Linked DNA regions of Homo sapiens. The protein of the gene in region 3 purifies or fractionates together with the protein of the main gene of each other region. This does not show direct contact. Each region holds a gene or a part of one and is shown on either strand. Other genes may lie near its edges. The genes, in order: CYB5B, OCIAD1, MTCH2 and NDUFB8.

Evidence for each region.
Region 1: the proteins of MTCH2 (region 3) and CYB5B purify together in Homo sapiens (affinity purification with mass spectrometry; 2 studies listed by BioGRID and IntAct, with this or other methods). This does not show direct contact.
Region 2: the proteins of MTCH2 (region 3) and OCIAD1 purify together in Homo sapiens (affinity purification with mass spectrometry; 3 studies listed by BioGRID and IntAct, with this or other methods). This does not show direct contact.
Region 4: the proteins of MTCH2 (region 3) and NDUFB8 fractionate together in Homo sapiens (co-fractionation; 2 studies listed by BioGRID). This does not show direct contact.

The regions. Positions count from the first base shown.
Region 1 is NC_000016.10:69,427,598-69,434,622, reverse strand, and holds part of CYB5B (cytochrome b5 type B), read right to left. Parts: intron 1-7,025. UniProt on the Homo sapiens protein: Cytochrome b5 is a membrane-bound hemoprotein functioning as an electron carrier for several membrane-bound oxygenases.
Region 2 is NC_000004.12:48,855,071-48,862,095, reverse strand, and holds the end of OCIAD1 (OCIA domain-containing protein 1), read right to left. Parts: intron 4,884-7,025; coding exon 4,731-4,883; intron 1,940-4,730; exon of another isoform or gene 1,893-1,939; intron 1,372-1,892; coding exon 1,334-1,371; 3' UTR 281-1,333; downstream 1-280. UniProt on the Homo sapiens protein: Maintains stem cell potency. Increases STAT3 phosphorylation and controls ERK phosphorylation. May act as a scaffold, increasing STAT3 recruitment onto endosomes. Involved in integrin-mediated cancer cell adhesion and colony formation in ovarian cancer.
Region 3 is NC_000011.10:47,618,542-47,625,566, reverse strand, and holds part of MTCH2 (mitochondrial carrier homolog 2), read left to right. Parts: intron 1-2,790; coding exon 2,791-2,866; intron 2,867-6,647; coding exon 6,648-6,734; coding exon of another isoform or gene 6,735-6,767; 3' UTR 6,768-7,025. UniProt on the Homo sapiens protein: Protein insertase that mediates insertion of transmembrane proteins into the mitochondrial outer membrane. Catalyzes insertion of proteins with alpha-helical transmembrane regions, such as signal-anchored, tail-anchored and multi-pass membrane proteins.
Region 4 is NC_000010.11:100,526,860-100,534,610, reverse strand, and holds the start of NDUFB8 (NADH dehydrogenase [ubiquinone] 1 beta subcomplex subunit 8, mitochondrial isoform 1 precursor), read left to right. Parts: upstream 1-4,739; 5' UTR 4,740-4,759; coding exon 4,760-4,844; intron 4,845-5,104; coding exon 5,105-5,231; intron 5,232-7,536; coding exon 7,537-7,636; intron 7,637-7,751. UniProt on the Homo sapiens protein: Accessory subunit of the mitochondrial membrane respiratory chain NADH dehydrogenase (Complex I), that is believed not to be involved in catalysis. Complex I functions in the transfer of electrons from NADH to the respiratory chain.

The DNA.
Region 1 (7,025 bases), on a different chromosome or scaffold from region 3:
AAGGGCTGGGATTACAGGCGTGAGCCACAGCACCTGGCCAACCACACACCCATTAGAATGGTTAAAAGTAAAATAACTGACAAATACAATGTATCAATGAAGATGTGAAGAAACTGGAAAACCTACATTGTGGTGGGAGTATAAAATTATATAAACACTTTGGAAAATGCTCTGGCAGTTGCTTAAAAAGTTAAACAGACATATAACCTAGTAATCTCACTCCTAGCAATTTTACTACTAGGTATTTGCCCAGGAGGAATAAAATCATATGTCCACACAAAGATTTGTACATGACAGTTCCTAGCAGTTTTATTCATAACAGCCCCAAACTGGAGACAACCCAAATGTCAATCAACAAGTGAATGGATAAACAAATTTTGGTATGTTCACACAATGAAATCATAAGTTACAAATCACTGATAACACAGAAAAAATAGATGAATCTCACAGATATACTGAGCAAAAGAAGCTAGACAGAAGAGTACGTACTATAGTGTTAGAAATAAAATGAGTGTGTATGGGGACAACACTGGTAGAAATGTTCTACAGTTATGTGCCACATAATATGGTCAACAATGGACCATATATATGATGGTGGTCCCATAAGATTATAATACCATATTTTTATTGCACCTTTTCTATGTTTAGATGCACAAATACTTGTTACTGTGTCACAACTGCCTACAGGTTTGTACAGGTTTATAGCCTAGGAACAAGAGACTATACCGTACAGCTAAGGTGTGTAGCAGGCTATACTACCTAGGTTTGTGTAAATATACTCTATGATGTTTGTGAAGGGGTAAAATCAACTAATGATGCAGTTCTCAGAATGCACCCTCATTGTGAAGTGACCCATGACCGTATATTGATTGTGATGGTGATTATACAGATGAGACATTTGTCAAAACTCACTGAACTCTACATTCAAAATCTGTACATTTTATTGTCCCTACATTTGATTTCAATTAAGTTGATTTAGAGAAAAAAATGTGACAGCAAAATATTGAAAAACCCAAATGTTTATCAATAGGATACTGCTTAAATAATGATCCATATAATAAATCCTATGCAGCTGTGGTGAAGGAGGAGGAGGGATGCCAGTTATTGCTATGGAAAGATCCCTGAGATACACAGTTAAGTGAAAAAGGCAAGACACAGATGAGTGTGCATAGTATGTTATCTTTTGTGTAAAAAAAGAGAAACTACATTCACTTTGGCTTGTACAGGCAAAAAGAAACTAGAGGGATACACAAACAATGGGAGTTAACTTTAGGAGGCAGTGAAACTGGGCAGAGGGGAAGGTGGCTTTTTACTATATACCTGTTTGACCTACTTAAAAAATGAAAAAAATTACCTAGGTTCCAGGAAAGGGGTATCTGTTCTAACTTCCCTATACCACATTCCCAATCCTTCCAAATTATATTTAAAATGTGAACAAAGCTATAAAACAGACCTAATTCCATACTCTGCAGCCATGAAAAACATTGAGGCAGATCCTAGGGTACGGTTAAGAGTACAGGCCACAGGCCGGGCATGGTGGCTCAGGCCTGTAATCCCAGCACTTTGGGAGGCTGAGGCAGGCGGATCACCTGAGGTCAGTAGTTTGAGACCAGCCCGGCCAACACGGCAAAACCCCGTCTCTATTAAAACTACAAAAATTAGCCAGATGTGGTGGCAGGTGCCTGTAATCCCAGCTACTCAGGAGGCTGAGGCAGGGAGAATCGCTTGAACCCGGGAGGTGGAAGTTGCAGTGGGCTGAGATCGCGCCATTGCACTCCAGCCTGGGTGATAGAACGAGACTCTGTCTCAAAAAAAAAAGGAGTACAGGCTATAGGGTCACAGTGCTTGATTTCAAATCTCACCTGTGCCACCTAACTTTATGACTCTGTGAAAGTTACTCCTCTGCTCCTGTTTTCTCACCTCTAAAACAGGTTGTTGGGAGGCTTAAAAGAGAAATTACATGTAAAGCACTTAGAATAATAAGCACTCAATAAATACTATGACGACTACGAGGGCAAATCAACTAATAGAATACTATGACTCTATTTCTGTATATATTTGTACATATTTGTATATATAAGTATATACATGTTTGCACATATAAGTATATGCACGGAAGATGTAGTATTCAAACAAATTATTGGGATTGAAAGAGTTTAGCCTACCCTAACTTAAATGTGTTCAGAACATTTACGTTAGCCTACAGTTGGGCAAAATCATCTAACATGAAGCCTATCTTACAATAAAGTGCTGACTATTTCATGTAATTTATTGAATACCATACTGAAAGTGAAAAACAGAATGCTTGTATGAGTACTCACATATCACTTTCACACCATGGTAAAGTCAAAAAATTTTAAGTCAAGCCCTAGTAAGTCAGGGACTGTCTGTAAATTGCTTCAATGTCATCCCTCATCTTCAAACATGTCAGTGGTTTTCTATTACCTTTTGGATCAAATCCAAACTACCTACCAGACCTTGCATGTCCTGGGTCCCGCCTAGCTCTCTGGCCATTCTTGTCCTTCATTCACTATAGACACAGCTTCTTTCAGTCCCACTAATGTGCCAAACTCTTGCTTGACTTCAAATGCTGCTGGAATGCTCTTTTCTGTATTCTTTCCAAATCAGGTTCATGACCATCAGCTCAATTAAATGTTATCTTCTCACAGAGGCTTTCCCAGATCACTCTTATTAAATTAAATCTTTCCTGATTTTTCTTTCTCAACTCATTTGTTTTCTTCATAAAAGTGCCATAATTTAAAATTATTTCATCTGTCTGTTTTTGTTTTGACTCCTCTAGAATGGTAGCTTCAAGAAGGCAGTATCATGGGATATTTTCGTTTTGTTTGTTTGGAGACAGGGTCTCGCTGTCACCCAGGCTGGAGTGCAGTAGTGCTATCTCGGCTCACTGCAGCCTCGATGTCCTGGCCTCAAGCCCTTCTCCCACCCCTGCCTCCTGAGGAGCTGGGACTACAGGCTCATGCCACCATGCTCGTCTAATTTTCGTATTTTTTGTAGAGATGGGGTTTTGCCATGTTGCCTAGGCTGGTCTCAAACTCCTGAGCTCAAGTGATCTGTCCACCTTGGCTTCCCAAAGTGCTGGGATTACAGGCGTGAGCCACTGCACCCAGCTTTGTTTTGTTTTTAAGACAGAATCTCACTCTGTCGCCCAGGCTGGGGTTCCATGTTTATGTTTATTTTTATACACCACCAGGGCCTACTACTATATAGAACTTAACAAATATTTGTTGGGTTAATAAAATGTTATCCCATTTATGAGATGGTTCCTAAAGTAATATTCTCATTTATGGTGACAGTTTCTAAAAACACATATAGGCCGGTGCCGTGGCTCACACCTGTAATCCCAGCACTTTGGGAGGCCAAGGTGGGCAGATCACTTGAGGTCAGGAGTTCGAGACCAGCCTACCTAACATGGTGAAACCCCATCTCATAAAAACTAGCCAGGTGTGGTGGGAGGGACCTGTAGTGCCAGCTACTCCAGAGGCTGAGGCAGGAAAATCGCTTGAACCCAGGAGGCAGAGGTTGCAGTGAGCCAAGGTAATGCTACTGCACTCCAGCCTGGGCGACAAAACAAGACTCCATCTCAAAATAAATAAATAAATAAATACACATATAAAGCTTTAAAATAGGGCTGGGCATGGTGGCTCACACCTGTAATCCCAGCACTTTGGGAGGCCGAGGCGGGTGAATCACCGGAGGTCAGGAGTTCAAGCCCAGCCTGGCCAACATGGCAAAACCCCATCTCTACTAAAATAGAAAAATTAGCCGGGCATGGTGGCATTCACCTGTAATCCCAGCTACTCAGGAGGCTGAAGCAGGAGAATCACTTGAACCTGGGAGGCAGAGGTTGCAGTGAGCTGAGACCATGCCATTGCACTGCAGCCTGGGCGACAAGAGTGAAACTCTGTCTCAAAAAAAAAAAAAAAAAGTTTTAAAATATCACAATGTTATTTCAAGTTACTCTTTTGACAAATGACTATTTATACACAAGTCAATGGCTTCCAAATTTTCACTTGTAATACCCAGTAAGGAAATAATTTTACACTGCAATCCAATAAACACCATATACATGAGATATTATAGGCCAGGCACAGTGGCTCATGCCTGTAATCCCAACATTTTGGGAGGCCAAGGCGGAAGGATCACTTGAGCCCGGAGTTTGAGGCCAGCCTGGGCAACATGATGAAACCCCATCTCTACAAAAAAAATACCAAAAAAATTAGCAGGGTGTGGTAGTACATACCTGTAGTCCCAGCTACCTGGGAGGCTGAGGCGGAGGATTGTTTGAGCCCAGGAGGCAGAGGCTGCAGTGAGCCAAGATGGCACCACTGCACTCAAGCCTGGACAACAGAGCCAGACTGTCTCCAAAAAAAAGAAAAAAAAATACATTATATATAACTGAACAAAGTTTCACAAAATTTTACCCTTGATAAGAGAGATGCACTTTGATATTTTCTATCAATGTCATAAGATATTACAATCATTTTTATGTGATTTTTCTAAACTACTAAATGGTGGAAAGATAATGACATGTACTACTTTCATTCATGATTTCAACAACTCATGAATGCACTGATTCAAACAATGCAAAATTAATCTGCCAGGGAAAGACAATTCAATTATATTACTAATTCTAAACTACCACATTCAAACTCCAGTATCATACTCTAACCAGTCATTAATCAAAAAAATGGTAAGCTACAGACACAGGACACTTAAGATTAGGAACCTCTTGCTAAAGGAGGGGCCCCAAAGTGACATCAGATTGGAAAGAGAAGGATGAATACCAATGTAAATCTTCCCTCTCTCATCTAATAGCAACCCAACTCTTGAAGACTCATAAGCCAAAAACTTTGGTGTTATCCTTGACTCATTTTTCTTTCATTCCCCAAATCTGGCGCATCATTAAATCCTATTGGCTCTTCCATCACAACACATCCAAAATCTGACACTTGTTCTGGTACAACCCACTATCTCTTGCCTAATTACTAAAACAGCCTCCTAACTGGTCTCCTCAATTCTGCCCTTGTCCTCTTAAGAAGGCAAAGCCAGCTGGACTTCCTGGGTGGAGTGGGGACTTGGCAAACTTTTGTGTCTAGCTAGAGGATTGTAAATGCACCAATCAGTATGCTGTAAAAATGCACCAATCAGCACTCTGTGTCTAGCTAAAGGATTGTAAATGCACCAATCAGCACTCTGTAAAAATGGACCAATCGGCACTCTGTAAAATGGACCAATCAGCAGGATGTGGGCGGGGACAAATAAGGGAATAAAAGCTGGCCACCCCAGCCAGCAGCATCAACCTGCTCTGGTCCCTTTCCACACTGTGGAAACTTTGTTCTTTCACTCTTCACAATAAATCTTGCTGCTACTCACTCTTTGGGTCTGTGCCACCTTTAAGAGCTATAACACTCACCGCGAAGGTCTATGGCTTCATTCTTCAAGTCAGAGAGACCAAAAACCCACCGGAAGGAACCAACTCCAGACACACTCTTCCTTCAGTCTTTCACAACAATGTAGTCAGAACGATCCTATTACGCCATTAAGTCACATCATGTCACTCTTCTGCTCCAATGATTTCCCATCTCAGAATAAAAGCCAAAGTCCTTCCTAAAACCTGTGAAGTTGTACATGATTTGTCCTCCCCTGATCATTCTGATCTCATGTGCAACTATTCAACCACTGTGGCCTCCCTGACTGTTCCTCAAACATACCAGACATCCTCCCATCTCAAGGCCTTTGAACTTGTTTCCTCTGCCAGGAATGCTCTATGCTCTTCCTACAGATACCCTCATGGCTAGCTCCTTTACTTTGCTCCTGGCCTTTACTTAGTCATCTTCATAAAGTTATCTCGGCACCATCGCTAAAATTTCAAACCCTCCTCCTCACACCACATAAATATTCCACAGTCCTCTTCCCTGTATTATTTTTCTTTTTTTTTTCATTTGTGACGGAGTCTCACTCTATCACCAGACTGGAGTTCAGTGCCACAATCTTGGATCGCTGCAACCTCCAACTTCTGGGTTCAAGTGATTCTCCTGCCTCAGCCTCCCAAGTAGATGAGAGTACAGGCACATGCCACCATGCCCAGCTAATTTTTGTATTTTTAGTAGAGATGGGGTTTCACCATGTTGGCCAGGATGGTCTCAATCCCGACCTCATGATCCATCCGCCTCGGCCTCCCAAAGTGCTGGGATTACAGGCCTAAGCCACCGTGTCCAGCCCCCTGTATTATTTTTCTTCTTAGCACTTACCACTACCTAATGTAGTATATATTTTAGTTATTTACTCTGCTTATCGTCTGCCTCCTGTGCCATGTAATCTCCATGAGGGCATAGCTGTTTATTCACTACTAAATCCCCAGCACCTAGAACAGTGTCTAGAACATAGTAAAGGCTTAATAAATATTTGAATAAGTGAATGAATGAATAGGCTTGGAATGAACAAGAAAACAGAATAAATAAGAATAGCTAATTAGGCTGAGCACAGTGGCTCACACCTGTAATCTCAGCACTTTGGGAGGCCCAGGCAGGAGGATCCCTTGAGCCCAGGAGTTCCAGACCACACTGGGCAATAGTGGGACCCCAATTCTTTTTTTTTTTTTTTTTGAGACAGAGTCTGACTGTCGCCCAGGCTGGAGTGCAACGGCACCATCTTGGCTCACTGCAACCTCCACCTCCCGGGTTCAAGCGATTCTCCTGCCTCAGCCTCCTGAGTAGCTGGGATTACGGGTGTGTGCCACCACGCCCAGCTAATTTTTTTGTATTTTTAGTAGAGACGAGGTTTCACCATTTTGGTCAGGCTGGTCTGGAACTCCTTACCTCATGATCTGCCCACCTTCGCCTCGCAAAGTGCTGGGATTACAGGTATGAGCCCACACCCAGCCAGTGGGACCCCAATTCTACAAAAAATTTTAAAAATTAGCCAGGCGTCGTGGTGCACACCTTTTCCCAGCTATTCGGGAGGTTGAAATAGAAGGATCACTTGACCCCAGGAGACTGAGG
Region 2 (7,025 bases), on a different chromosome or scaffold from region 3:
TCCACTATAAAATGGTGTAGTATTTACATATAACCAATGCACATCCTCCTATATACTTTAAGTCATTTATAGATTACTTGTAATGCCTAATGTAAATGCTATGTAAATAGTTATTACAATGTATTGTTTGGGAATAACAAGAGTTCAGTACAGACAACCATCCATTTCTCTCCCTCAAATATTTTCAATCTGCAGTTGATTGAATCTGCAGATACGGAACCCACAGATACGAAGGGTCACTGTACACCAATTTTTCTTTTTAACATAATATCAGTCTCTGTGATGTATACCAAATTTTTATTGTTTTAGAATTTACAAATTCTTTAAAAATGCTTTTTAAGGCATTTACCTATTTACTATATTATCAATTTATCTACATAAATCACATTCATTATATTTTTATTTTTTTAGACACAGGGTCTCACTCAGTCGCACAGGCTGGAGTTCAGTGGTGTGACCACAGCTCACTGCAACCCAGAACCACTGGGTTCAACTGATCCTCCCAACTCAGCCTCTTAAGTAACTAGGACTACAGGCACACGACACCATCGCCAGCTAATTTTTATTTTTTTGTAAAGACAGGGTCTCGCTTTGTTGCCCAGGCTGGTCTCAAACTCCTGGACTCATGCAATCCTCCCACTTCGGCCTCCCAAAGTGCTGGGATTACAGGCATGAACCACTGCCCACTGCCTCCAGCCATATTATAGATTTATAGCCATATTATAGCCATATTATAGAAATATTATAGATGACTTTATTTCCTATACCTACATGATTATAACTAGCTTAAAAATAAATCAATAAATTACAAACAATAAAACCATAAAATCAAGGAAGATGAGGGCTGTTGCATGTTCCTTTACATTTTATTTGCCATAAACATTAAGATAATACAGAAAATACTGGAGAAAAAAAGCTTTTTAATAATTTCTTGATGCAAAGCTTCACACTTAAAAATTATGCTTGCTCCCCCCATCCACCCCAATTCAACATGCAGATATCATTTATTTTCTTATATGCTGATTCTAGAGCATTGTAATCTCGACGGTTTTTTAAGAGTTATCTTTGCCCTTGCAACAATTTCACAAACTGTATACAATCATGGTATAATACCATCATTCAAATGAATCCCTAAGGTGAGTACATTTACACAATATTAACACTAAAAATCTGTGTTTTTTTAAAACACCATAGAAGTCAAACCACAAAAACCCAGGATCTTGTTTTAAATGTGTTTATGAAGACTGCTGCTGAGCTCAAAGCATGCAGGTAATCATGACCACCTAGATGAAGCTGGATGTTGAAACTCCTTCATGTCCAATGATGTAATTTTTCACTCATCCCAAGTATCTCCATACTTGTTTACTTTGACTAGGAAAAAAGCATAAATAATTGATGATTCCAAGCAATAATAAGTAAAAGACATTATTTTAAGTTTGTTGCTATGATGAAAAGTTATGTTTCTCTCTCATTTGAATAAAAGCACATGAGAGTCAAATTATAATTACAAAAAGGGGATGACCAGACTTTTGTGAACTTGGGGTTGGACAAATGCATTGTATCTAGAATTTTACATAAATAGTTAGTCCTCATAACAAACTTCTAAACACAATTCTCATTTTAATGGTGAGAAAAAAGATTAGTAACTTGCCCAAGGTACAAGCCCTAACAAGAACTGAGATTTGAGTATAGGTCTGTTTAGATCCAAAGCCTAGGTACCTTTACATCTTTACCATACTACCTAAGTGTGGCACATATTAAGCCATATACAAAAAAAAAAAAAAATAGTGGGAAATAATAAAACAAACATTTGAATTTTCGTTTTTCACAAAAAATACAGCAGTAGAAATGGTCAAGTGTTCAAGTTGTAATTAATTCAATCTTCTCTCTCAGGGCTGTAAATACTACTATAAGAAGAAAATACTACTACATTTTACAGGTACTCTATATTTTACATTTTAAAACATGCTCCGCTGTCTATTCTACTCCTTTACTTTTTTGCTTCTCTTCCACATAGCTTCTGTCTGTGAGTAATCATAACAATATAAAGCAGCAGTTATCACAGTGTGGACTCTTCAGGGAATACATGAAGTCAAAATTATTTCATTATTATACTAAGACATTATATATCCTTATGTTTCACATTTTGCCTTTTCCCCTTGCTCTCATTCCCTCATGAGTATATGTTACATGGTTTTCTAGAAGCTACAGGATGTGTGGTGACATTGCTCTGGCAGCTAATGGAATATGTGCTTGAATTTTTTAAATTTCTGGGTCTTAATTTCTAATTAGATAAATATCAACCACATAAGCTAAAGGTGAAAACTTTAAGTGACACTTTCTGACCATGTGAATCTACCCTGTACTAATTTCAACAATAATTCAGAAAATGACTGAAACTATTTCATAACAAGTCTTTTCTTTAAATTATATAAAGCACACAAAAAACCAGCTTTTCCCAAAAAAAGAAAAAATCATTTCACATTCTTGTGTCATGTAACAGAACTTGAAGACTTCAGTCAAAAATCAAAAATGTCAAAATCCAGCAAATGTTAAAGGTCTACCAAATTTCCTTTCTTAACCTCTATTACCATAGAAGCCTAAACCAAAATACTCAATTTCTGATACAGTGTAAAGTACTATGCTATGCAGACAATAATAGAAAAGATTACAAAAATGAGAAAAATATTACTTTCTGCCCTCACAGAGCTTACAATCTAAATCCTCAAATTAATTAGCAGGACAAAGTACCGACAAGTCTTTACATATTACAGAGCAATGGCCACTAGATGCAGTTTATGCTAAATGTTGTTTGATGACAAACATTCAAAAGTATGGTACATCCCTAATTCATTTCAAAGGTAGATTTTTTTTACATCAATAATATGATGCAGATATTATCTATCATTGTTATAAAAACAGAACTCCAAACGAAGCAACCGCTAATGATTAAAAATAAAATTAGCTCTAAAAAATGACCATAACAACAAATACTAAGGACTTTCATGTATTTTTGCATTCTTTGTGGCATATGACCTTCAAGAAGGTACCAAAGACCTATTATTTCCATTTTTAAAGTAGTAAATAGAAAATCTTGAAACAATGACACATACTCTGAAATTCCTTAAGAGAAAATCATAAAACCCTATACTGAAATAGCTATAAAACCCTATTCGAATGTCCTCTTCCTTTAGAGGTAAACTTGTATCAAAAAATTTACTTTGGCTAATGTATAGCTATTCCAAAAAGACTTAAAAGAAACCAGGATTTAAAAATTCATCTTTAAGAAATGCCTTAGAAGCTGGCATATAACTCTTTCAAATTCACAAATGTACAAGAAAGGTCAGGCACAGTGGCTCCCACCTATAATCCCAGCATTCTGGGAGGCCAAGGTGAAAGGACTGGTTGAGCCCAGGAGTTTGAGACCAGCCTTGGCAACATAGGGAAAAACCCACTGCACCAAAAAAAATTTTTAACAGCCAGGGATGGTGGCATACAACTGTAGTCCCAGCTACTCAGGAAGCTGAGGTAGGAGGACTGCTTGAACCCAGGAGGTCAAGACTGCAGTAAGCCATGATTACACCACTGCACTCCAGCCTGGGTGACAGAATAAAACCATCTCAAAAAGAAAAAACAAACAAACAGAACAAAAAAACACGAGAAAAACCCAAATGTACAAGAAAATCAATCTCATTACTCAATCATTCTGTGGTTAGGCCACAAGTGGTATTACAGCGCAACGCCAACCTCAGGTCACTACAGCAACTTATGCGATAGATGTATCATTAGGAAAATAAGACTATCAGATCTCCAAGGAGATTTGTTGTAAGAGAGAAACAGTCAAATGAGTATGTCTCTACCCTGTGTTAAACTAATCTTGCTGTCTTAAGACTTACTATTTGGACTTCACTATTTTCTTCCTTTTTTTGGCGGGGGGAGGGGGGAACAGAGCCTCGCTCCGTCATCCAGGCTGCAGTGCAGTGGCGTGATGTCGGTTCACTGCAACCTCTGCCTCCTGGGTTCATGCAGTTCTCCTGCCTCAGCCTCCCGAGTAGCTAGGATTACAGGCATGCACCACCATGCCCAGCTGATTTTTGTATTTTTAGTAGAGACAAGGTATCGCCATGTTGGCCATGCTGGTCTCCAATTCCTGGCCTCAAGTGATACACCCAGCTTGGTCTCCCAAAGTGCTGGGATTTCAGGCATGAGACACCACACCTGGCCTTGACTTCATTATTTTCTAACACAAAATGGCCTTTGGAACACCTTAAAAATGGAAAACTGGCCGGACACGGTGGCTCAAGCCTGTAATCCTAGCACTCTCAGAGACTGAGGCAGGCGGATCACAAGGTCAAAAGATCGAGACCATCCTGGCCAACATGATGAAACCCCATCTCTACTAAAAATACAAAAAATTAGCTGGGCGTGGGGGCCTGTAGTCCTAGCTATTTGGGAGGCTGAGGCAGGAGGATTGCTTGAATCCAGGAGGCAGAGGCTGCAGTGAGCCAAGATCGTGCCACTGCACTCCAGCCTGGCGACGGAGCAAGACTCCGTCTCAAAAAAAAAAAAAGAACTGATAACTGTAAAGTACTATTTTAAAAATATTTTACTTTGGTTAATTGCTTGAAGAGTTAAATCACATATTAATTAATTTTTTATAGTATTGTTTTAAAGTAATGTTTTAGTTTCCAATCCTCAACAGTAAAGTGATTCAGACTAAACTATCATACCTTCTTTTTTTGGCACTCTTTCATGCATAGGCCTGACTGAGGGGTCAGTCTTTTGTGTTAAAGATACTTCATATGACTCTCTGTTCTTATTCCTTAATTCCTCATATGTAATATTTTTTCTTTTAGGACTTTCTTCAAGGTTGGGATCAGGTCCTAAAACAACAAACAGTTAATAAATGGTAATAAAAGGATTTGTATAACTCTAAAGCAACTAAATTTTACAAATGCTCCTTACAAAAGGAGCTACAATCAAAATAGAATAAAGAATCAAATTATTACCACCATTTCACAGGTACTATACTTTCACCAAGATAATCATCAAACTGAAATCTACTTCCACCCATATTTTTAAGCTTTTATTTCTAAAAATTAAAATGGACATCAAAAATTTTAAAAACTAAACCACAGCCAGAAGAAAAATATGTATCATAATATATAACAGTACAATTTAAACTCATTAAAATACCAGTGTTTTAAACTGGAGTTACTCATACTGTATACAGAATTAAAAGAGAAATATATTCTACTAGGGACAACTGAATAAAACTTGACATAGCATAGATTTTACTCAATATATAGTTAAATAGTCCTATAACCACAGACTCTATGAAAACAACTCCAGCTATTTTCAAAAATCATTTATTTTACCTTTTTACAAAATTTAAACAAAAATACTGAAAATAGGCCAGGCACAATGGCTCACAACTATAATCCCAGCACTTTGGAAGGCCGAGGCGGGCGGATCACCTGAGGTCAGGAGTTCAAGACCAGCCTGGCCAACAAGAAACCTCATCTCTACTAAAAACACAAAATTAGTTGGGCGTGGTGGCACACACCTGTAATCCTAACTACTAAGGAGGCTGAGGCAGAATCGCTTGAACCCAGGAGGCGGAGGTTGCAGTGAGCTGAGATCGCGCCATTGCACTCCAGCCTGGGCAACAAGAGCAAAACTCTGTCTCAAAAAAAAAGGAAAAAAAGTTGAAAATAATTACTTGAAAAGTATAAAACATAGCCTTTAATCAGAATATGTGTTGTTTTCATTCCAGTCTAACAGATGCAATGTTGATGCAGAAGAAAGTATCAACTGTTATTTTGGCCTGGGAACTAACATTTATTCTTTATTTCTCCCAAAGAGAGTCAAAATGTGAATATTACATATTATCATAGAGTCAAATGTAAATATAATGCAGTGGTTACTCCTAATATTGGTTGACAGGATCAAATAGTGAACATAGTTTATACAATTTATAAACAGCAAAAAAGGCCATATGAACATTAAAAAAAAAAGATGCTAACATTCAGTGAACAACTACTTAACTTACAAAGTCTTACCTACCACATACCACACCAAAAGTACTGTTTTTCAAAGATGTTTTCAATAAGACATACAAATTGGGCATATACTTTTAATATTAACTTTTTAAAAAATAATTTTTGTGATACTTATTTAGAACTCAAAGGTAGGATCCCAGTGAATAATCAGAATTTTCTAAGCAACATAACTATACATTAAATAATGTTTTCAACCATAAACTTTTTTTTTTTTTTTTGAGACAGAGTCTCACTCTGTTACCCAGGCTGGAGCACAGGGGCACAATCTCGACTCACTGAAACCTCCCCCTGCCAGGTTCCAGTGATTGTCCTGCCTGAGCCTCCCAAGTAGCTGGGATTATAGGCATGTGCCACTATGCCCAGCTAATTTTGCATTTTTAGTAGAGACAGGGTTTCGCCATATTGGTCAGGCTGGTCTTGAACTCTGACCTCAGGTGATCCACCCGCCTCGGCCTCCCAAAGTGCTGGGATTACAGGCATGAGCCACTGCACCCAGCCATTTTCAACCATAAACATTTATTCTGCTAAATAAATATATACTATACTTATATAAAGCAAAGAGGATTTAAATTTCTCCTAATTAGTTCTAGTATTATATGATGGTTCAAAACTACATTTTTCTTACTAAAAAAAGAATGTAAAGAAAAATATTATAACCTTATATTGGGATTAAAACACTTTGCATTTCATTAGTAATAAGTAATTACTGAACTCATTTCCCTTCACCATATATGTTATATTAAAAATTCTGAAGGAAATCGTGTGTACTTCAGGAACCTTGGGTTCTTAACCCCACTCTGCTGACAATTAGGAAATGTCCTTGGGCAAATCACTAAGCTTCTTTGAATCCTGGTTTTCTCAATTGCGAAATATGGTAGTTTGAGCAGATGATCTCTGAAGTTCCTTCCAGGTCTAATACTTTTTCTTATAAAAAATATTTTACCATTATAAAATTCTGGAACA
Region 3 (7,025 bases):
TTGGTATTTTTTTAAAAAGGGGGGGAGGAAAAGTATAATTGATACCATTAGAAGATTCCTAATTTTTTTCTTTGTATGCCCTATGCAGCAGCAGCCTCAATTTGTATTTATTTATTAATTATTATTATTATTTTTTTTTTTTTTGAGATGGAGTCTTGCTATGTTGCCCAGGCTGGAGTGCAGTAGCATGATCTCGGCTCACTGCGACCTCCACCTCCTGGATTCAAGTGATTGTCCCGCCTCAGCCTCCTGAGTAGCTGGGATTACAGGCATTCGCCACCATGCCCAGCTAATATTTTTGTATTTTTGGTAGAGACAGGGTTTCACCATGTTGGCCAGGCTGGTCTCGAACTCCTGACCTCAAGTGATCCACCCGCCTCAGTCTCCCAAAGTGCTGGGATTACAGGCATGAACCACCATGCCAGGCCAATTACTATTATTATTTATAGTTTTTGTTTTTGTTTTTGTTTTTGTTTTTTGAGACAGAATCTCACTCTGTCACCCAGGCTGGAGTGCAGTGGTGCAGTCTCGCTCCATTGCAACAGACACCTCCTGGATTCAAGCAGTTCTCATGCCTCAGCTTCCCAAGAAGTTGTGATTACAGGCATGTGCCACCATGCTGGGCTAATTTTTGCATTTTTAGTAGAGATGGGGTCTTGCTATGTTGGCCAGACTGGTCCTGAACTCCTGACCTCCGGTGATCTGCCTACCTCGGACTTCCAAAGCGCTGGAATTAAAGGCGTGAGCCACTGCACCTGGCCTATTTTTATTTATTTTTAATTTTTTTAGAGATAGGGCTGCAATGTGGTGGTGAAGTCCTAGCTCACTGCAGCCTTGAACTCCTGAGCTCAAGGGATCCTCCCATCTCAGCTTCCCAAGTAGTTGGGAGTACATGTGCATGCCACCATGCCTGGCTAATTATTTTTTGTGAAGACACAGGGTCTCACTTTGTTGCCCAGGCTGTTCTTAAATTTCTAGGCTCAAGTGATTCTCCTTCCTCAGCCTCTTAAAGTGCTGGGATTACAGGGGTGAGCCACCATGCCCAGCCAACATATTGTTATTTTAAATCTTTATCTTTTCTATGAAAGTGACAAAAGGTATATCAGGGATTAAATGACAATCCATACCTGTTTTTCCTAGGGGCTTTATGGAGAAAGTGAGTTTTAAAGAACCAGAATTAGGATATTTAGTCTATGGAAAGTTTGATGACCTTTTCTCTGTATTGGTTAGAAGGGCAGGTTTTGGTATAGTGGTAGACTCCATTGATTTCCAAATTCTAGATGCCAAGTGACTCTACTGAGTTGGGCAAAATTTTGCCTTTTTTTTTTTTTTTTTGAGATGGAGTCTCACTCTGTTGCCCAGGCTATAGTGCAGTGGTGCAATCTCGACTCACTGCAACCTCCACCTCCCAGGTTCAAGCAATTCTCCTGCCTCAGCCTCCTGAGTAGCTGGGATTACAGGTGCCCACCAGCATGCCTGGCTAATTTTTTGTATTTTTTTGTTGTTGTTATTGTTGAGACAGAGTCTTGCTCTGTTGCTCAGGCTGGATTGTGGTGGCGCGATCTTGGTTCACTGCATCCTCCACCTCCTGGGTTCAAGTACTTCTCCTGCCTCAGCCTCCAGAGTAGCTGGGATTATAGGCACTTGCCACCACCCCCGGCTAATTTCTGTATTTCTAGTAGAGACAGTGTTTCACCATGTTGGCCAGGCTGGTCTCGAACTCCTGACCTCAAGTGGTCCACCCTCCTCGACCTCCTAAAGTGCTGGGATTACAGGCGTGAGCCACTGCACCCAGCCTTGCCTTTTTTGTTTAATTCAAAATTCTTTTCCCATATGGTACCTGACATATCATTAAACATGTTACTGTTTTCAAATAAGATCAGATAGCTATGTGGAGTTTTGAACATTTTACATTGTTTGTTTTCTGGTTTTGTTTGTTTCATGTTACTCCTGGCAAGCTGTGATGTTTTCTGATACGTAGAGCAACTGCCATTTTTTAGCACAGTGTAAACTTGAAGGATGAATTAAATGTATTATTATTATTTACAGTTTTTTCAAGATGAAGTGATTATACCTAAGTAGGAACATATATATCTACTGTTTATATCCGTTTTCATGTTTAGTATCTTTGTGAACACCAGTTAGTTTTTAAATCTCCTTTCCCTGCTCTTTTTTTTTTTTTTTTTTTTTAAAAAAAGACTGGTTCTTACTCTGTCACCCAGGCTGGAGTGCAGTAGTGCAATCTTGGCTCACTGCAACTTCCGCCTCCTGGGTTGAAGCAATTCACATGCCTTAGCCTCCCAAGTAGCCGGGATTACAGGCATGCGCCACCATGCCAGCTCATGTTTTTGTATTTTCAGTAGAGATGGGGTTTCACCATGTTGGCCAGGCTGGTCTTGAACTCCTGACCTCAAATGATCCACCTGCCTTGGCCTCCCAAAGTGCTGGAATTACAGGTGTGAGCCACCGTGCCCGGCCACCTTTCCCTGCTCTTTAATCATGTAAATGCTGTGTTCTGGAGTTTCATTTGTCCACAAAGGAAAAGTCTAAATGTTTTAGAAATTAAGGTTGAAGTTTATGTTTATTTATTTATTTGAAACCTAAATATAGGGGAGGAATTCTCTTTTGGATGCTTGATCGTTCCCCTGCTTCAATATGATTTGTTTCATTGAACTAAAATGATCTCTCAGGGAATCTTCTGTGCAGCAGAATATTTTGACAAGGTTTATCAACGTCTCAAGAGAATGGTTAATATTAACATGAATAGCTCCATGTTTTTTTCTATTTTAGTCTTGCTGGTGGATGCCCTCCTTACTCCCCAATATATACGTCTTGGATAGACTGTTGGTGCATGCTACAAAAAGAGGTATTTCTTTTTCTCTGTCTCTCTCATTTTATTTTGTTTTATTTTTATTTATTTGTTTTCTTAAATATTGTCTCTGGAATCCCAAGTTAACTCTTGTAGCTCACTTTAGCTAGAGTTAGTCTAGTCTGCCAGTTAATGTACACTTTACAGTGTTCTGTGTTTTCACTTTGGCATAATAGTAAAATGTGATGTTTAGAAATCATGAGCAGGAGTAATGAAGAAGAAAGAATCCCTAGATGAGACCTAGAAGCCATTTGAGTGCCCACATTCAACTTACAAATACGATCCAGGTAGATTATTATCCTGGTAAAATGATGGCCTTGATTTTAGACTCTTTTTTTCCCCCAAACTCACCTTTCATAACCACTTATTTGTCACAGTGGTATTGACAGAGCTGGTCTTATACTTCTAGAGTCTTGTTAGTGGATGATTTTGCCTAGATACCAATTTAGGGTTTGTTATTACTATGAGGTGTATAATCTGCAACAAAAAATTATTTATTATCTAGGCAAAGCTTTATTGGAAAATAAAATAATGGGCTGGGTGCAGTGGCTCACGCTTATAATTCTAGCACTTCGAGAGGTCTAGGTGGGCAAATTGCTTGAGCCTAGGAGTTTGAGACCAGTTGAGGCAACATGATGAGACCTCATTGCTACAGAAAATACAAAAACTTAGCCAGGCATAGCACCTATAGTCCCAGCTACCCAGGAGGCTAAGGTGGGAGGATCACCTGAGCCCAGGAGGTCAAGGCTGCAGTGAGCCAAGATTGCATCACCGCACTTCAGCCTGGGTGACAGAGTGAGACCCTGTATCCAAAAAAGGAAAATAAAATAACGGCTAGGTATGGTGGCTCATGCCTATAGTTCCAGTTACTCAGGAGGCTGAGCCAGGAGGATCACATGAGTCCAGGAGTTTGAGGCCAGCCTGGGCAACACAGCCAGACGTGTCTCTTAACAAAAAACTACAGGCCAGGTGCAGTGGCTCACAGGTGTAATCCCAGCACTTTGGGAGGCCAAGGCGGGCAGATCACTTGAGGTCAGGAGTTTGAGACCAGCCTGGGCAACGCAGTGAAACCCCATCTCTACTAAAATACAAAAGAAATTAGCTGGGCGTAGCAGCGTGTGCCTGTAGTCCCAGCTACTGGGGAGGCTGAGGGAAGAGAATTGCTTTAACCCAGGAGGTGGAGGTTGCAGTGAGCCAAGATTGTGCCACTGCACTCCAGCCTGGGTGACAGAGCAAGACTCCATCTCAAAAAAAAAAAAAAGACAATAACAACAACAAATGGATTGGCTGTGGGCTAAATTTAGCACAGGATCACTTAAAATGATTATCAGTTTAAAGCTGTTTTTGAAGGGGGGTCCACTTCTTAAAAGATTGTAGAAGAAAGCGTATAAAGAAGCTCTTTGTTGCATTATTTTATAGCACTAGTGATATATAAGAGAAAGGCCTTTGAAATCTGAATGAAAAGGCCTAAGTGTTGTTTGTAGTTGCTCTTGCTTAGTGTGCCCACAAAGCCCCTCTGTGAATCCAAGCTTGAATACTTGAATGATTTCAGTACAGACCTACTATGAACATTGTGCATTTCATTCTGAGTTTTACTCTCTATTGTACAGTGTGGTCCCTGTTTAAATGGAAAAAATGGCCTTTCCTTCCTTCCTTTTCTGACTAACACTCTGTTATAGGAAGAAAGCAGACAGAGAATGGATTACGGTGTCAAACACACTTAAAGTAGGAACAGTTGTTCCTGTAGGTGCTTACAACAACAGCAAATCTTGATTGGGCATTTACTGTATACCAGATATCATGCTAAGAGCTTTTCTTACATCAGCTCATGTAATCCTCAAAACAGCTGTGTGAGAATAGGTGTCATTCTTAATCACCCATTTCACATATGAAGAAACTGGGGCTTAGAGCAGTTTAGTGCCAATTACATAATGCAAGGTCACATGGCCTATATTTGGGAAGGCTCAGATTTATACTCCAGAGTGTACTCAGTTGCACTCAGAACATTATTACTTTATTTTTATTTACTTATTTGGTTCTTTATTTTTTAGAGACAAGCTCTGTCGCCCAGGCTGGTGTGCAGTGGTGGCATCACAACTCACTGTAGCCTCAAACTCCTGGGGTAAAGCAATCCTCCTACCTCAGCCTCCCAAGTAGCTAGGACTACAGGCATGCTTCCACCATGTCCTGTTAATTTTTTTGTTTTGTTTTGTTTTTGAGACAGGGTCTCACTCTGTCACCCAGGCTGGAGTGCAGTGGCATGGTATTGGCTCACTGCAACCTCTGCCTCCTGGCTGAGGTCTCTGGCTCAAGTGATCGTCCCACCTCAGCATCCCAGGTAGCTTGGACTACAGGCACATACCGCTAAGCCCAGCTCATTTTTTTGTTTTTTGTTTTTTGTTTTTTTTAATTTTATTATTATTATACTTTTAAGTTTTAGGGTACATGTGCACAACGTGCAGGTTTGTTACATATGTATACATGTGCCGTGTTGGTGTGCTGCACCCATTAACTCATCATTTAGCATTAGGTATATCTCCTAATGCTATCCCTCCCCCCTCACCCCTGTTTTTTGTTTTTTGTTTGTTTGTTTTTTTGTTTTGTTTTGTTTTGTTTTGTTTGAGACGGAGGCTTGCTCTGTCATCCAGGCTAGAGTGCAATAGCACGATCTTGGCTCACTGCAACCTTCACCTCCCAGGTTCAAGCAATTCCCCTGCCTCAGCCTCCTGAGTAGCTGGGATTACAGGTGTCCGCCACTACGCCCGGCTAATTTTTGTATTTTTAGTAGAGATGGGGTTTCACTATGTTAGTCAGGCTGGTCTCGAACTCCTGACCTCAGGTGATCTGCCTGCCTCAGCCTCCCAAAGTGCTGAGATTACAGGCGTGAGCCACCATGTCTGCCCAATTTTTTGTATTTTTTGTAGCAACGGGGTTTTGCCATGTTGTGCAGGCTGGTCTCAAATTCCTGAGCTCAAGTGATCCTCCTGCCTTGGTCTCTCAAAGTGCTAGGATTACCGGTGTGAACCATCACACCCGGCCTTTAATTTTTTAATTTCTTGTAGAGATGGGGTCTTACTATGTTGTCCAGGTTGTTATTACTTTGATTATAAGATTTTATAAGTAGTCCTTAGAAACATGATTTCATTTCATTAAGAAATAAATAGGCCGGGTATGGTGGATCACACCCGTAATCCCTGCACTTTTGGGAGGCCAAGATAGGCGGATCACTTGAGGTCAGGAGTTTGAGACCAGCCTGGCCAATATGGTGAAACCCCACCTCCACTAAAAGTACAAAAATTAGCCAGGCACGGTGGCGCGTTCCTTTCCCAGCTACTTAGGAGGCTGAGGCAGGAGAATCGCTTGAACCTGGGAGGCAGAGGTTGCAGTGAGCCGAGATTGCACCACTGCACTACAGCCTGGGCAACAGAGCGAGACTCCATCTCAAAAAAGAAAAACAAAGAAATAAATGAAAGCTAGCACTTACTGAATGTTAGGCACTGTTCTACATGACTCATTTGCTAAGCCAGCTGGAAAGTGGCAAAGCCAGAATCCAACCTGGGCGTTCTGTCTGCCCAGAGTAAGAACTTAATAAGGAGAAATTGTAGTTAGTTCATAGTAGCTCAGCCTTTCAGAGAATACTAATCCTTGTTCTGTAGTGATAGTCCCAGTTTTGTCCTAGATTTAGTCACGTCTCCCAATTGGACCTCTCTGCTGATTTGGATTGGCTGATCTCATCTCGCTAGATATTATTTGTGTTTTGTTTTGTTTTGTTTTCCAGGGGAATATGAGCCGAGGAAATAGCTTATTTTTCCGGAAGGTCCCCTTTGGGAAGACTTATTGTTGTGACCTGAAAATGTTAATTTGAAGATGTGGGGCAGGGACAGTGACATTTCTGTAGTCCCAGATGCACAGAATTATGGGAGAGAATGTTGATTTCTATACAGTGTGGCGCGCTTTTTTAATAATCATTTAATCTTGGGAAAATTCAGGTGTTTGGTGTCTGCCTTTTTTGTTCTTTTTTCCAGCACAACATAACTTACCACTGATACTCCCCCTTTAGTTATTCTGAATTAGGATATTTTTGCTCCAAATTCTTATTTTACTTAACCAGAAGGGAAAAAAAGTTGTATTTTCCTGAAGCTACAGGCACTTTGTC
Region 4 (7,751 bases), on a different chromosome or scaffold from region 3:
ATGTAATTATGCTACATAGTAACCATGCTACACCAAACCGATAATAGGGCTACCTCTGTGGAAGTGTTTGAGGCTGCAGGGGGCAATCAAGGCTTTCATTTTATCTGCAGTGTTTGAATTTTTTTTTTTTTTTTGAGCTAGGGTCTCACTCTGTCACCCAGGCTGGAGTGCAGTGATGCAATCTTGGTTCACTGCAACCTCCACCTCCCCAGCTCAAGCAATCCTCCTACCATAGCCTCCCAAGTAGCTGGGACTAAAGGCACACACCACCATGCCGGACTAATTTTTTTTCCTTCTGTAGAGAAAGGGTTTTGCCATGTTGCTCAGGCTGAATGTTTGAATTTTTACAAGAATGTATTAATTCATAACCTTGGGAATTAAAAATAAATTAGGCCAGGCATGGTGGCACATGCCTGTAATCCCAGGACTTTTCAAGGCTGAGGCAGGAGGATTACTTGAGCCTGGGTGTTCCAGATCAGCCTGGGCAACATAGCAAGACCTCATCTCTACAAAAAATTTTAAAAATTAGCTCGGTGCGTTGATGCATGCCTGTAGTCCCAGCTACTAGGGAGGCTGAGGTAGGAGGATTGTTTGAGCCTGGGAGGTGCAGGCTGCAATGAGCCATGATCATGCCACTGCACTCCAGCCTGGATGACAGAGCAAGATCCTGTCTTACTAAAAATAAATAAATTAATTAAGATCAAGAAGATTAAAAGAACTAAAATCAGTAATGAAACAGGGATATTACTGCTGACTTTACCCCCCAAAAAAAGCATATAAGGACATACTGTAAACAATTGTATGTCAAAAAATTACAGAACCTAGATGAAATGGACAGATTCCTAGAAAGGCACAAGCTATAATAGCTGATTCAAGAAGAAATGGAAAATCTGAATAGACCTGTAACAAGAGATTGAATTAGGAATCAAAAACATCCCATAAAGAAAAGCCCAGAAACTGGGCATGGTGGCTTACATCTGTAATCCCTACACTTTGGGAGGCAGAGGCAAGCGAATCACTTGAGCCCAGAAGGTCGCGACCAGACTGGGCAACATGGAGAAACCCCATCTCTACCAAATCCCCCCAGCCAAAAAAAAAAAAAAAAAAAAATTAGCAGGCATGGTGGCACGCCTGTAGTTCCAGCTATTCGGGAAGCTGAAGTGGGAGGATCACTTGAGCCCGGAATGTGGAGGTTGCAGTCAACTGAGATTGCACCACTGCACTCCAGCCTTTTGAGACAGAGCTAGGCCTTGTCTCAAAAGAAAAGAAAAGGCTGGGCACAGTGGCTCATGCCTGTAATCTCAGAACTTTGGGAGGCCGAGGTCGGGGGGACCACCTGAGGTCAGGAGTTCGAGACTAGCCTGGCCAACATGGTAAAACCCCCATCGCTATCAAAAATACAAAAATTAGCCAGGCATGGTGGTGCACGCCTGTAGTCCCAGCTACTTGGGAGGCTGAGGCAGGAGAATCGCTTGAATCCCGGAGGCGGAGGTTGCAGTGAGCTGAGATCGTGCCACTGACTCCAGCCTGGGCAACAGAGCAAGATTCCATCTCAGGAAAAAAAAAAAAGAAAAAGAAAAAGAAAAGCTCAAGACCAGATAGATTTACTGATGAATCCTACCAAACATTTTTTAAAAAATTAACACTGGTCTGGGTGCAGTGGCTCATGTCTGGAATCCCAGCACTTTGGGAGGCCACGGCGGGTGAATCACGAGGTCAGGAGACCGAGACCATCCTGGCTAAAACGGTAAAACCCTGTCGCTACTAAAAATACAAAAAAATTAGCCGGGCATGGTGGCGGGTACCTGTAGTCCCAGCTACTCAGGAGGCTGAGGCAGGAGAATGGCGTGAACCTGGGAGGCGGAGCTTGCAGTGAGCCGAGATTGCACCACTGCACTCCAACCTGGGCAACAGAGCGATACTCCGTCTCAAAAAAAAAAAAAAAGAAAGAAAGAAAACTATAGACCAATATTTCTTATGAATATAGATGCAAAAATCCTAACAGAATACTAGCAAACTCAGTGTAACACCATATAAAAGAATTATATACTATGACCAAGTGGGATTTATTCCAGGAATGCAAGGTCAGTTCAACATCTCAGAATGATCAATATAACACACCATGTAGTAATCAATATTTTATTGATTAATATTTATAATCAACATAATACACTATATTAGTAAAAGAAAAAACCCTACATGATCATCTCAATAGACACAGAAAAAGCTTTTGACAAACCCCAACACCCCTTCCTGATAAACACAGGGTTCCAAATGATACTGTAAAAAAGCAAAAAAACCTACAGAGTCAGAGAAAATATTTATGAATTGTGTATCTGATCAGGGAATTGTATCTAGAATACATAAAGAATCCTTACAACTCAACAATAAAAAGACAAACCAATTTAAAAATGAACAAAGGGTTTGAACAGATATTCCTCCAAAGAAGGTATACCATGGCCAATAAGCACATGGAAAGATGCTCAGCATTATTAGTCATCAGGGTACTGCAAATGAAAACTGCAATGAAGTACCATTCACAGGCACTTGCATGGTGATACTAAAAAGAGACAATAACAAGTGTTGATAAAGATGTGGAGAAACTGAAACCCTCTCACACACTGCTAATGGGGATGTAACATGTCACAGCTGCTTTGAAAAACAATTTGGCAGTTCTTCAAAAGTTAAACCACAGAGTTACCCTATGACCCAGCAATTCTACTCCTAGGCATATAACCAAAAGAATAGAAAGCATACATCCAGACAAAAACTTATACAAGAATGTTCACAGCAGCATTATTCACAATAGCCAAACAAGCAGAAACAACTCAAATGTCCATTAACTGATAAATGTATAAATAAAATATTGTACTGTACATTCATATAATGGAATATTATACAGCCCAAAAAGGAATGAAGTACTGATATGTGCTACAACACAGACAAACTTTGAAAACATTATTCTAAGTGAAAGAAAATGGACACAAAAGGCCACATATTGCATGATCCATTTATATAAACTGTCTGAATAGGCAAATCCATAGAAACAGAAAGTAAATTAGTGGTTGCCAGTGGGTAGAGGTAGGGGCAACGTGCTAATGTGTATGGGTTTTTTCGGAAGCAATAAAAATGTTTTAGATAGTGATGATGATTGCACAACTTTGTAAATGTACTAAAAATAACTACTGTACACTTTAAAAGGTTTTTTTGTTTTTGTTTTTGTTTGTTTGTTTTTTGTTTTTGAGACAGTCTCACCCTGTCACCCAGGCTGGAGTGCAGTGGCGTGATCTCGGCTCATTGCAACCTCCATCTCCTGTGTTCAAGTGATTCTCTTGCCTCAGCCTCCTGAGTAGCTGGGATTACAAGTGTACACCACCATGCCCAGCTATTTTTGTATTTTTAGTAGAGATGGGTTTTTGCTGTGTTGGCCAGGCTGGTCTTGAACTCCTAACCTCAAGTAATCTTCCCACCTCAGCCTCCCAAAGTGCTGGGATTACAGGCGTGAGCCACCGCACCCGGCCTAAAAGGGTGAATTTATGGTATGTGAATAATATCTTAATAAAAATAAATAAATTAGATCAACTCTGTTTCTTGACCTAAATTGGATCAGGGTTTGCTATTGGTTGAATGCAGATGTTGTGCAATTATTCTGAACATCAACTAGTGATGTCATTTACAAGACAGCAAGTTGCTGTGTAGTCCTTCCCAAAATTTATATATTAAATAGTATATATCCATATTTGTTTACTTTTTATAACTTAAAAAAAAAGAGACGAAGTCTCACTATGTCACCCAGGCTGGTCTCAAACTCCTGGTCTCCAGCCATTCTCCAACCTAGGCCTCCCAAAGTGTTGGGATTACAGGTGTGAGCCACAGCTCCCAGCTTATATGCATTTTTATTGCTCTGATATATACTTGAGAATGTTTATAATAATAGGTTCTGCTCCAAAACAGTGGTCACCTGAAAAGTCACTGGAAATACGTGCATATTTATAATGTGTAAGTTATTCAAATCCCAAGTGAAAACATTCATATGCAAACATAATAATGTCTCCAATTCTTCTGTTGAGTTAGTTTGTTCATTATGGGCCGGTTTGTAATTTGTTTTATCCAAGTCCTACCAACTCTGAGGCTTTAAGCTGTCTCTGGAGAGCTGCCTCTGGTGATAAGTTTAATTTTACATTTGTTGGGTTGAGGTGACTGAGACATGCAGATGGAAACACGGACTGAAACTAAGGAGCCAATTCAGGGCCGAATTGTGTGTTGCACTGGCGTCTAAGTGAAGATCAACCCATTTGGAGAACAGAACAACAAGCAAGACCAACAGGTGAATTTGAAGAATGATCATGTTTGGGGATGGAAGGAAGTGCCCGTGAAGGAGAGGAAAGCAAGCAGCCAGAGAAGAGAGTAAGACAGGCTCATTTCACTAGTACAGCTCCTGGGGGAGGTGGTTAAGCTGTCTACCTGAGTTGCTCAGGTTCCGAGTTCCCATCATCCCTGGATGGGTCTAAGTCAGCTCAGGGAGAAAAAGGACACAACATTCTGAAATGTCAGAGACCTGCCTGGTTTTCCCTTCTTCCCGCTTATCCTTCCCAGCCTCTATCCAACCCTTGGCTTCCCAACTGCGTATTTAAACCCCGCCCCTGTTGAACCCTTCGGCTTTTCTTCACTCCCGGCTTCCTCCGTCACGTTTGGCCCGGCTCAGCCGCCGTGACAGGCCTTTGCGCATGTGCAGAAGGGAAACGTGAAGAAGGTGAAGATGGCGGTGGCCAGGGCCGGGGTCTTGGGAGTCCAGTGGCTGCAAAGGGCATCCCGGAACGTGATGCCGCTGGGCGCACGGACAGGTCCGCGAGAACGGGCGAGACCTCAGTGTGGGAAGGGGGTACCTGAAATTTGGTGTATCGGGAGGGGGGATCGTAGATGCCGCGGCGGCAGCCTCCGGGTAGGGAGTGGAGGTGGCGTTGATATATCCAGAAAATGGGGTGGAGGATCGCACTGATCCTGCGAAGTCCCGGGCTCGGACCTCTGCAGCCCCTGCGACTTGAAGCCTTCGGAGCGGCTGGAGAGCGGGCTCGCTTCTGACCTGTTCTCTTCTGCGTTCTAGCCTCCCACATGACCAAGGACATGTTCCCGGGGCCCTATCCTAGGACCCCAGAAGAACGGGCCGCCGCCGCCAAGAAGTATAATATGCGTGTGGAAGACTACGAACCTTACCCGGATGATGGCATGGGGTGAGACAGAGAGGGTATGCTCGCACCCAAGTAGTGATGGGAGAAGGCCGGCTGGGTTGGGTGGCTTGACTGTGACCCTTTTTCCCGAACCTTCTCGTGACCCCTCAGAGTCAATGGAGTGGGTGCTTTTCTCTGTGGAGGGAGGTGGGAGGGGGGTGGGTGAGCAGCTGCAGCTGAGAGGACTTCAATTTTCTCCTTGGCTCAGGCTGTTTCCTCAAATGAGGAAGCCGAGGTTTTAATGGCTCCCTCGAGGACCCCCGAATAGCAGGAGCCTTCCTTGGCTCTATCCAGAGCGTCGAGTTTCATTTAGATTGAGCATCTGCTGCGCTCAGGTGCTGTCATCCAGGCATGTGACCAGGCTGGAGCTGGACTCCTGTCATGAGAATCTTATTTGTAAACGGAGTACTCTATATTTGTGTGTATGTCTCTTTAAAAAAAATGTTTTTCTGTTAGTGCTGTGGAAATCGTAGCAACTATTAAGCAGATTAAACAGCCAGCCCCCTTACGTACTCCAGTTGATGTTATCCTATCCCTTCCACACTCTTCCGTATCCATACCCACATAACATCCCAATGGTTAATTATCTGAAGTGATTATCATCGCCTTTATTTCCTGTCCTAATGTCACTCTTTCAATCTTGGTTTCAGCAACTTCTATTCTTCTTGTTATACACTCATTTTCTGTAGCATATGTCTAGTTGTCATCATTTCCTGTTTTTTCTTATGTTGTGGACAAGAGCAGCCTTGTTCGAAGCCAGTGTCAGATGAACCTGGATTTGTTGGGGAAAACCCAGCTTAGCAAGAGGTCCCATGAGGTGTTTGAGACGCAGAGATGAATGCCAACTGGGTGGTCAAGAACACAGTTATTACGAGAAGAGTGCTTTTCTAATCTGTACCCTTTTTGTTTTTATTCCAATTAGCTGGGTGACTTTGGATTCAGACTCTAAACTTTAATTTTTCATTTTCTATCTAATGAGGGAATCAGAGTACAGTCATATGTCACTTAACAACAGGGATACATTCTGAGAAATGGGTTGTTAGGTTATCTCCTCATTGTATGAACATTAGGAGTGTACTTACAGAAACCTAGATGGTATGGCCTGCTACACACCTCGGCTTTATGGTATGGCCTGTTGCTCTGAGGCCACAAACCTGTACAGCATATTGCTATACTTAATACTGTGGGAAATTGTAACACAATGGTATTTGTGTATCTAAACATAGAAAAGGTACATAAAAGTATGCTATAAAAGATAAAAAATGGGCCAGGCACAGTGGCTCACGCCTGTAATCCCAGCACTTTGGGAGGCCAAGGCAGGCAGATCACGAGGTCAGGAGATCAAGACCAGCCTGGCTAACGTGGCGAAACCCTGTCTCTGCTAAAAATACAAAAATTAGCTGGGCGTGATGGCAGGTGCCTGTAATCCCAGCTACTTGGGAGGCTGAGGCGGGAGAATTGCTTGAACCCGGGAGGTGGAGGTTGCAGTAAGCTGAGATTGTGCCATTGCCCTCCAGTCTGGGCAACAAGAGCAAGATTCCGTCTCAAAAAAGAGAAAAAGATAAAAAATGGTACATATGTATAGGGCAGCTTTATTATAAACTTATGGGACCCCCTTCGTGTATGTTGTCCGTCATTGACTGAAATGGTATGTGGCACATGACTGTAATTGATTGCTAAATTCCCTTTCATCTCTAATATCACACGATTGTGTGACTTTTTTTCTTTTTATTGAAAGAAGTTTGGGGAAGCTGGGTTTTTTTGTTTTGTTTTGTTTTTTTCAGACAGTTTCACTCTTGTTGCCTAGGCTGGAGTGCAATGGTGCGATCTGGGCACACTGCAACCTCCACTTCTTGGGTTCAAGTGATTCTCCTGCCTCAGCCTCCTGAGTAGCTGATATTACAGGCACCTGCCACCACACCCAGCTAATTTTTGTATTTTTAGTAAAGGTGGGGTTTCACCATGTTGACCAGTCTGGTCTTGAATTCCTGACCTTAGGTGATCTGCCCACCTCAGCCTCTCAAAGTGCTGGGATTATAGGCATGAGCCACCACACCTGGCCCAGGGAAGGCTTATGTACATTAAAATATTTCAGAGTTTGCCATGAACTTTTAAATACAGTGTGGACTTCTATGGTTAATTCTGTGCTTAGTGACTAGAACTTGAGCTCTTGCCTTGAGGTTTAGTTCCTTTGTCCTTAGGTGAGGCAGTTATCTCTGTCACTTTGTTTCTCATCTATAAGATGAGGAGACTCTGAATTGTCTGAGGCTGCTCACAGCCCTTTCCAGAAGTTCTTGCTGTCTTTCAGGTATGGCGACTACCCGAAGCTCCCTGACCGCTCACAGCATGAGAGAGATCCATGGTATAGCTGGGACCAGCCGGGCCTGAGGTTGAACTGGGGTGAACCGGTAAGAGAACCATATCTCATTTGACCTTCCTTCTCTCTTTGTCTTCTTGGCGATTCTTTAGCTCAGATGGCACTTCTTTGACCAAGTAACACTAAGCTTTCCTGCTCAAGGAAGC